Linked DNA regions of Homo sapiens: region 1 is linked to region 2. Evidence: fine-mapped expression QTL. A gene starts in region 2. The other region holds a variant in brackets. All regions are shown on one strand. Distances are from middle to middle. Region 1 overlaps EPS8 (EGFR pathway substrate 8, signaling adaptor). Region 2 holds the start of STRAP (serine/threonine kinase receptor associated protein).

Region 1 (4,402 bases), 160 kb after region 2:
GTAGCCCAGGGAAGCCAAAAGATTGGACACCCCTGCTGTAGAAGGCTTCAATGAGAAATCATTCATAGTGCAATGGTCTTTTTGTTGTGACTTCTCAGGATACTTTGAGTTAAAAGATTATAAAACCAGACAGACAGTAGCCCCCTTTGAAAAAAAAAAGTATGTATGCATTAAAAAAAAACTAGAAAAATTTATAAAATGTGAAAGCATTTGTCTCTGGCTAGCAGGATGACTCATGATTTTTGTTCTTAAAATAGTTTTGTATGTTCTAACTTTCTGCCATGGATTTACTTTTATGATCAGAAATAATATTTATAATATATAATAAAAATTTTAAAAAGTCTGATATTTGGTGCTGAATGAAACACTAGAAATCCTGTAGGCACTTCTTATTTCTATTTGTTGTAGTAAAGTGTGCTTTTATTACTTTTAAGTTTTCAGGAAAATCCTTTTAACTTGATGCGCAAGACAAAGGCAAACAAGATTGTTGTCTTTCACAAGAAATGGAGGATAAAATGTACTATTCCAAAGAAGGAAAACTGATGGGCTGAGATGTAGAGCAGTGTGCCTTCTAACTGGAGAGCTGCCTGGGGGTTTGGAGATGAAATTTTTTATCTATTGGTTCACAGAACCGGCTGCTTCCAGACGATTACTTTTTTGTTGAGCCCCACAAACCTCGTTCTTTTAGCTGAGTATTATGTAGTTTTTCCAGTATTGCTTTCTTTCCCTCATTACATCTAGGAAAACAGTTTGGAGATGAGCTACTGGAGTTAAAAAAATCTATTTGGTTTTATTTGTCAATTAAAAAATCTATTTGGTGTGTGTTAGGTTTATTTTTGTGAGTGGGGAATGGCATATGACTGTATATTACAGACATGGGTGGGTTTCCTACAGATTGTGAATGGGAAAAGTTTGAGTTACTCTGTTGTGGTATTTGTGTTATAGTATTTTCTTGCTTTCTTTTCACTCTGAGTATATGTGGACATATTTTTGATTGCCTTCACCTATTATGTGCCAACTATTGTACTAAGTGCTGGGGATACAGTGGTAAACAAAGGCTGGCCCTTGCCCTCAAGAAGTATGTATTCTAATGGGACAGACAGGGCAAAAATAAATGACATGCAACATCACCAACTGTAGTAAGTGGTAGGGAGAAAATAAAAAATAAAAGCACACAGAGATTAATGCAAGAGGGTGGGTTAGGTTTGGGGATAGATAATCTCATACAGCACTTTAAATATCTGGGTGTGCTTCTCTGAGCAAGTGGTAGATAAACAGGCTTAAAGGATGAGAATTGCTAAGAAATGGAGAACTTGAGTTTCAGGCAGAGGGAGCAACATGCCCAGGGAGTCCACAGCTGGGGCAAAGTGAGCAAGGAGGTCATAGAAGAAGGAAAGAGACAAAACTGAAAAGTGAGGCAGGGGACAGATCCTAAAAGGGCTTTTAGGTGACAGTAAGAGGCTTTGATTTTACTATGACTGCATTCAGACAACACTGAAGCGTTCTAAGTAAATAACACGACCAGATTTAAGGAACACCCCATTTGTTGATCACTAAGTGTATGATTATTTGTAACACTTAGCAGAATGTGACTGTCAATGGACCTCTTTTACAGTATGCTTTGCTTACATCAGTAGTGTGACCATTATGTTCTTAGTCACCCTGGAGTAAAGAAGAGTTATTGTTGGGCATGATGGCACATCTGTAATCCCAGCTACTCAGGAGGCTGAGGCAGAAGGATTGCTGTAGCCCAGGGGTTCAAGTGTAGCCTAGGCAACATAGGAAGACCTTATCTCTTAAAAAAAGAGGTTACAATTTATGTTACCTCATCTGATCCCAAGTGTTATCTAGCAAGGGGGAAATATTTGAATTACTTAGAAAACTCAGATGTGATTTTTTAAATCTACCATTTATTACTTATAATTAATCAGGTACTATGCTATACTCTTTTCATATATTATTTGAAAATAATATGTGAAGAAGATACTATTATTTTCATTTTATAGATAAGCAAACAGATTTAGTAATGTGGCCAAAGTTGTATAGCCTTAAAGTATGGAGTTGGGATATGAGTCTGTTTTGTACATGAACCTGAATTCTTTACAACTACATTCTACTGCCTATACTGATGATTTGTTTGTCACATAACACTAAATTGTATAGCCAGGAAAATAATTAAGGTTTAGATTTCAAATCCATGGCTTTTTGCCCATAACATACCACCTCTTGACGTAGTTGGTTTAATCTGTTTTTCATAGCCCCATGTCAAAAATAGAAGGGGATTAGATACCATTTTTAGAATTACAATTAAGAGGTCTTAAACTATAATCTAAATAAAGATTAAGACTTGGTTAGGAGAATAAGCATTTTATCAATTGAAAATAAACTTGAAAGGGATCCTTAATATTTTGCCCACCCAGGGTAAACATTCACTGCACTAACAATTTTCAGCCAAAGGCCCCAGCTAAATTCTGCCACCTGGGCAAACTCTAGTCCAATGATATTCAAAGAAATTAAACC[G/A]TTTTAAAAACTGATATGTCCTCTGGCAATTTAATGTGAGTGTATCACTGTGGCATTCAGCTTCAGATCATGTGTTGCTGTAATATCTTCTCTTTATATGACTGCATTTCTGTTGTGTGTCACTGACACGGCTTGTCTGATTTCAAGCCCTTTCTATCACTCCTATTTATTGGTAACATACAAGCTTCAAGGATCATTTGATGTGCAAATTTAATTGCAGGTTTTACTTTTAAAGGATGACATAAGCTATATCATTTTAACAACTGTTTGCACAGCTTTTTCTAAACTGCTACTCAGAAAACAGGCATTTTTATTCTGTGTATTGTAATGCTTCCTGACTTGTCAAGGCTGCTTGCTCAGTAATTAACTTATATGTAAGTATGTATGTATGTGTGTATATATATATATATGTATGTTTATATATACATATATATGATGATGTTTTGCAGTGCTTCAATAGGTACATGCTTTGGAATTAAACTTGGGCATTTCCCCTGATTTTTTGATAAGAGGACACCTTATCAGCATTCACAGTTCCTTTTTTGTATTTACTGATTTGCCCCTTTCTCTTCCTTCCTTCCTCGCTTCCTTCCCATTGCTATATAGCACATGATTATAGATAGGAGAGGTTAAGTCTTGCTACCTAGCTAATGTGATAATTTCCTGACAGTATTTCAGAGTTAAGGTAAAAATACTCCAGAAAGGATTGATACTTCTGTAAGAAATGCCTTTTTTTTTCTCTAAATGGCACTTAAGAACCCGGAAGCACTCATGATTTTAATAAGCTGAAGTAGTCCTGTCGTTTTGTTTAGAGTTTAACTTTTTGTGGAAAGGACAGGCTTTGAGGACATTGTAGGTTTAAAAATGCGTTTTACAAGGACCTTCTAGACAATTCTTTTGATATACATTCACCAACATGTCCAGCTAGCTGATTTGGTAGAATATGAGACTCTTGATATGCACTCATCAAGCTAATTACAGGGGATGGGAGTTCCATTTGAGCCAGGTGAAATGAGGAAAGTCTAAGTAAAATCTTCATAATTATGGGAAATATTGATACTACATGCCAAAAGCTTTCATTTTCCCTGCTTCAATTCTTTGTACCTATTGTGTTTCAGCAGAGTCTGTATTTAAATGGGAAATTTTCAGCAGAAATGGGAGGCTCTATAAATATTGTTATTCAATAATTTGTAAGGTGAATTTGCAGATGTCCTCATAGTGACTCATAATTTTTCCTTATTCGTCATTAGGTTTTGTGACTATTTGGTTATTTCTTTTTTCAGAAATTTTATGTTGAAAAGTGTAAAACTGCTAGTTACTGTATTTTAGCCAAAATCTAATTAAATAGGTTTTCTCCTTTTAAATTTGAATTAGGAAAATGTTCTGGGGTATTGGATCTGAATGAGACTGTACAAATTGGTCTCATTGGTCTCATTTTACAGGTGAGGAAGCAGAGGCTGAGAGAGGTTAAGTTACTCACCAAAGGTTATAGAGCTATTAAGTGGCAGACTTGGTGCACAAACACAAGCTTTTGGTTTCCTTGTGCTGAGGTCTTAACACTTTACATCTAATCTTTAGTTATAGGACATGAAAGGAAATGAGAAATCACTTTTTCCACCAATTTTTTTGTTTCTTGCTGTCTTTTTAACTGAAATTGCCAAATAAGATCATGTCTTATTGGAGCTGTACAGTGATTTCTAGGTTGAAAGTGACATTTAAAATCCATAATCAAATAAGTTTGTGTGGTGTTTCCCTTAATGCATTCCTAAACATTGCCAATTTAAGGCAAAACTACCATTTTGTTCATTTATATTCCCTGTTACATAATTTTGCGGTTCATTTTTCTCAAATCAATATTTTCCTAACTTAGACTACTAATGCC
Region 2 (4,402 bases):
TTGAAATGTGTCCTTTAGGTCAGCAATTCTATGACTGCACATCAGGAAAGAAAAGGAAGAAAGAAAAATAAAAAAACACCAATAATCAGTATGACCAGTACTCCATCCCCAGACCAATCAAACCAGAATTTCTGTACCAGGCACAGTAGTTCACCCCCGTAACCCCAGCTCTTTGAGAGGCTGAGGCATGGAGGCCAAGAGTTTAAGACAGCCTGGACAACATAGCTAGATACTGTCTGTATAGTAAAAAGTATTAAAAAATATTTTTAAATGTAGTAAAAAGTATAAAATATAAATATATAGTAAAAAAGTAAAAAAAAAAAAAAGTTTTAAAAATCCGAATTTCTGGGACTCATACCATTTGAATATTTGAAAAGCTCTCCAGATATTCTAATGTACATCAAAGGTCATGAACTACTAAAATGGCAAAGGGAAGACAGGAAGATCATTAGTAGAGAAGTGACATGATCAAGTATGTTTTTAGGAAGACAACTGGCAACAATATGGAAAATGAATAGGAGGAAAAGAAACTACTGAAAGTTAAAAATGATCCTGAACTAAGGCAGCCACAGTTACTACATGAAGGAACATTGGAGTCAGGAGACATCCCGCTGGCAGAATCAAAAAAGATGATGATAATCTAGATATAAGGGAAAATCAAGAATGCTTTAGATTTCAACCTTTAAAAACTTAGGAAATGACGAGCAGCTGAGTTTTGTTTTTTTGTTGTTTTTTTGTTTGTTTGTTTTTGACACAATGAGTTTTAATGATGCCTAAAGCCAGTTAACAAAAACCGGGATTGAAATAAAAACCTAGGGCCATCAATGTAGGATATCACTAAGGAGTACACACAGAGCAGCATTCGTAAAGGAGATCAACATTCATTATCTGGTGCGTTTGTTAATGCAGATTCCTGAGTCTCAATCAAAATATACGGAATAAGTCATTTAGGCCTCTGAAAATTTTGAGAACCACTGAAGACAAAGAAGCACACAGGACCACGATGGACCACGATGGAATTTTGGTGGGATCAAACATGCGTTCTGTATGGCAGCCAGTGAGTCAGAATTTTATGAATATCTGACACTGAAGTTTTTGATTATTTCAGGACACAAGCTACAGAGAACACCAAAGTTAGCCATCTTGGCTACACTTACGCTGTGAAATCTGCAGCTGCTGTAGCTGCTTTGGTGGCATCCTTATTCAGTGTTGCACCCCAAACAGCACCTTTATGACCCAAAAATGTTCCAATCCAGTCTCCTGTATCTCCCTGGCGTAGCATAGGTTTACCATCTAGAAAATATTTTTTAAAACATGTAATTTATAAGTTCAGATTACTTAAAGTCTAAGATTCAAATGTAAATATACAATGATGTTCAATGACAAAGTGGAAAAATTGTTTCAGCTATTTAACTACCACCACCCACTGAAGGCACTAAGGAATGTGCAGTAATAAATTAACTGAAGAGCTGAACAGATCATTCTCTCTGAAAAGCATCTGTAATTGGCTGGGAATACTGATCTGCGTCAAAACAATCTAGATTTTAGTCTTATTTTGGACAGACATCTTAGCCTGAATCTCAGTTTCCCATTTGAAAAATGAGGCTAATACCACAAAGGAATATCCAGTGAGACAAGAGCGAACGTCTTTGTAAGGTATTGCACGGCCTGGCCTAATTTCTCCTTTCCCCAAATCCTTGAAAGCTATTTACCGTGTTGTCCCGAGAGTCTAGGCAAATGCTGACCAGCTCCTTCAAAAATAGCAATAAAAATAAAATAAGGAGAGAGGTCTTAGTTGGAGGTAATAGTTTCTACAAAAGCGTCCTCTCGGCTCCAGCTGCGGATTCCCTAACACACTCCTTTCTCCACCGGACCAGTGTTGGCTCTCATCTCAGATGTTAATATCGCCCCCTCCCCCCTCACCACACCACCGCTTCGGCACTGGAGCGTGCGGGTCCCGATCCCTTTCAGCCCAGTCCCAGCCGTCGAGGACCAGGATTGCGGCCTTGCTCACCTTTGCAAGCGCTGATTAAGAAATACCCATAAGGCGTGATGCCACTGAAGGCCAAATCAACCACGGGTCGCGTGTGGCCAGAGCAGGTGAGCGGCGTCTGTCTCATTGCCATGGCGGCGGCGAAGCCAGCGACCGGACTGGCGAGCTGAGGGTCGTCGTTGTCTTTTCTCTCTTCTGCTGCAGTGCCTCGGGCTGCTCCAGGCCCCCGCCCTGACACTAGGGCTGGGCTGGGCAACAGGAAAAGAAGGGCAATCCGGTGGCACCGAGGTTAGGGAGGGGTGAGGGAGGGGTCAGGGAGTCTGCGACCAGCAAGCAACAGTCGACGAGGGAGGGAAAGGGAGGGAGGGAGGAAAGTAGGGGATGGGGAGAAGCGGAGAACCGGGCCAGCCACGATTCACAGCGTCCACACCGGCATCGGCAGGAAGTGACGACGTAAATGACGCAGAGCACCCGCCGGAAATGACGATTGGCGGGAGGGCGGGCTCGCCGGGTAGAAGTGACTTGAAGAAAGAGCGAGAAGTATAGAAGGGCGCAGGCGCTAGTTCAGTGCTCGTGAGGTAACTGGCGCTGGCCCACGCCGACTAAGGGAGACGCTCTAGGCACCGGGATGGGGTCCCTGTCCCCGAGCTCTAGCGGGTCAGAACGCCTTCCTGGTCCGCGGCCGAGTTGAAAGTTGTTCCCACTCCCATAAGTCCAAGGACCAGCGTCAGCTGTGTACCTGCCGAGCAGCCCTACTGAGGACTGTGCTCGGCCTCTGAATATCTAGACGGACACGAGCCATACCCAGTGACGGCCCAAACCAGCGAACGCTGTCTGGCAACGTTTTTTGCAATTTGTCTTATTTAAAAACCATATACGGGCTTGGAGTGGTGGTGCCTGTGGTCCCACCTACTTGGAAGGCTGAGGTGGGAGGATAACTCGAGCCCGAGAGGTCGACACCGCAGTAAGCGGTGCTCGCGCCACCGCACTCCAGCCTGGGCAACAGAGCGAGACCATGTATTAAAAAAAAAAAAAAAATCCCCAGTCATTTCTTCCGCTGTGTAAGTTTTCCTATGTTGCTAATGTTTTAGGAGTGGATACTATATAGTTTTAAATGCGATTAAATTCAAGTTACTTTTTCCTTGGTGGACTTCGGAGAACTCTAGAGTCGTAGATCCCCAATTTTTTTGATGAAATACTCTCATCCGTAAAGTGAGCCTTCACTCATTTTATAAGCGAATGAATGCTGAATTCTATCAAAAACTTTTACACCTTTTGATATGATGTATATATGAGTGATGATTTGCAAATTACATAGATGTGCATTATAATACATGGACAAAAATAGAAATATTAAAATAATATTTAAATATAAACAAACTCTGATATTGTCTGCAGCAGGCAGCCCACTGTGGCTCTGTGAAACCACCAGAGCTGTTAATTGTTGATACTGTTTCCTAACCAGGAGAGGGCTTTTCTCTGGGCAAGTTGTATCTTTATTGATAGAATGTAAACCCAATACAACAGAGATTTTTGTGTTTTCTTTGCTACTTTATCCCCAAGGTCAAAACGTCTGGGCACATAGCAATAAATATGTAATCAACATAAATGTCTGTGAATGTTTTCTTCATCTTTTTGCAGCAAACACCGTCTACAAGATTCGAGTCAAACAACGTGAGAACTTGAAATACGTCTCCATTCTTTTTCCTTAGTACTCTCGTTCATTCACTTACGGTAAAGCACTTACTATATATGTTTTTCATTTTATCTTGTTCGACTCCTCCTTTGTGCCATCCTCTCCCTTTTGTCTCACACATACGCACCACTCACACATTTATGAACTCCTTAATGGCAATGGTTATGGCTTTGTCATTTGTACTCTAGTGCCAGAAAAGTGAATGGCATTTAGTGAATACTCAGCATGACTGTTTACTGATTAAATAGATTGTTGCATTACTGATGGAGGTAAATAAAAGACCCACTCAAAATGACACAACTGGTCAGATACTGATACATGTTCATTTATTGCTCATTGTGTGTAGATAAGAATATAATTGGTAAGTTATGGTACATACTTGGCTCTAAAGAATGTATTATTTCCTGCTCATTTGGATTCTGAGTTCTAAGAGTATTGTGTATTATGACCAATTGGGTAGGCTTCAAGGTCAATTTAATATTAGAAGACAGGTTAATGTAATTGATATAATTAACAATATTAAAAGATTAAAGAAAATCATATCAAAAGATGTGTAAGAAGTTTTTGATAGAATTCAGCATTCTTTCACTTATAAGAATTCTGAGACACTAGAAATAGAAGGGACTTTTTTAACCTCATAGAATATCTGAAACCCCACACCTAATGGTGAAATACAGAAAGCATTCTGTATTAGATTAGGTACGAGACAGATG

What was found. PIP is the estimated chance that this variant, and not a neighbour inherited with it, causes the effect. A credible set is the group of variants that fine-mapping cannot tell apart.
Region 1: its variant is the best candidate, but not a certain one, in a credible set for the expression of STRAP in whole blood (INTERVAL, PIP 0.66).

Annotation. Positions count from the first base shown.
Region 1 is chr12:15,717,731-15,722,132 of GRCh38, reverse strand. All of the region lies in intron 1 of EPS8 (EGFR pathway substrate 8, signaling adaptor), which reads left to right. Among named protein-coding and RNA genes, the nearest start is that of EPS8, 69 kb to the left of the region's middle. The variant G/A (reference allele first, on the strand shown) is at 2,521.
Region 2 is chr12:15,880,432-15,884,833 of GRCh38, reverse strand. It overlaps STRAP (serine/threonine kinase receptor associated protein), which reads right to left and starts at 2,447. Exons shown (of 10, transcript NM_007178.4): 1 at 2,015-2,447; 2 at 1,158-1,293. The coding sequence starts at 2,126. LOC102724146 (a long non-coding RNA gene) reads left to right here and starts at 2,536. Exons shown (of 6, transcript XR_007063230.1): 1 at 2,536-3,054; 2 at 3,635-3,727. RefSeq lists enhancers at 2,370-2,489, 2,800-3,029.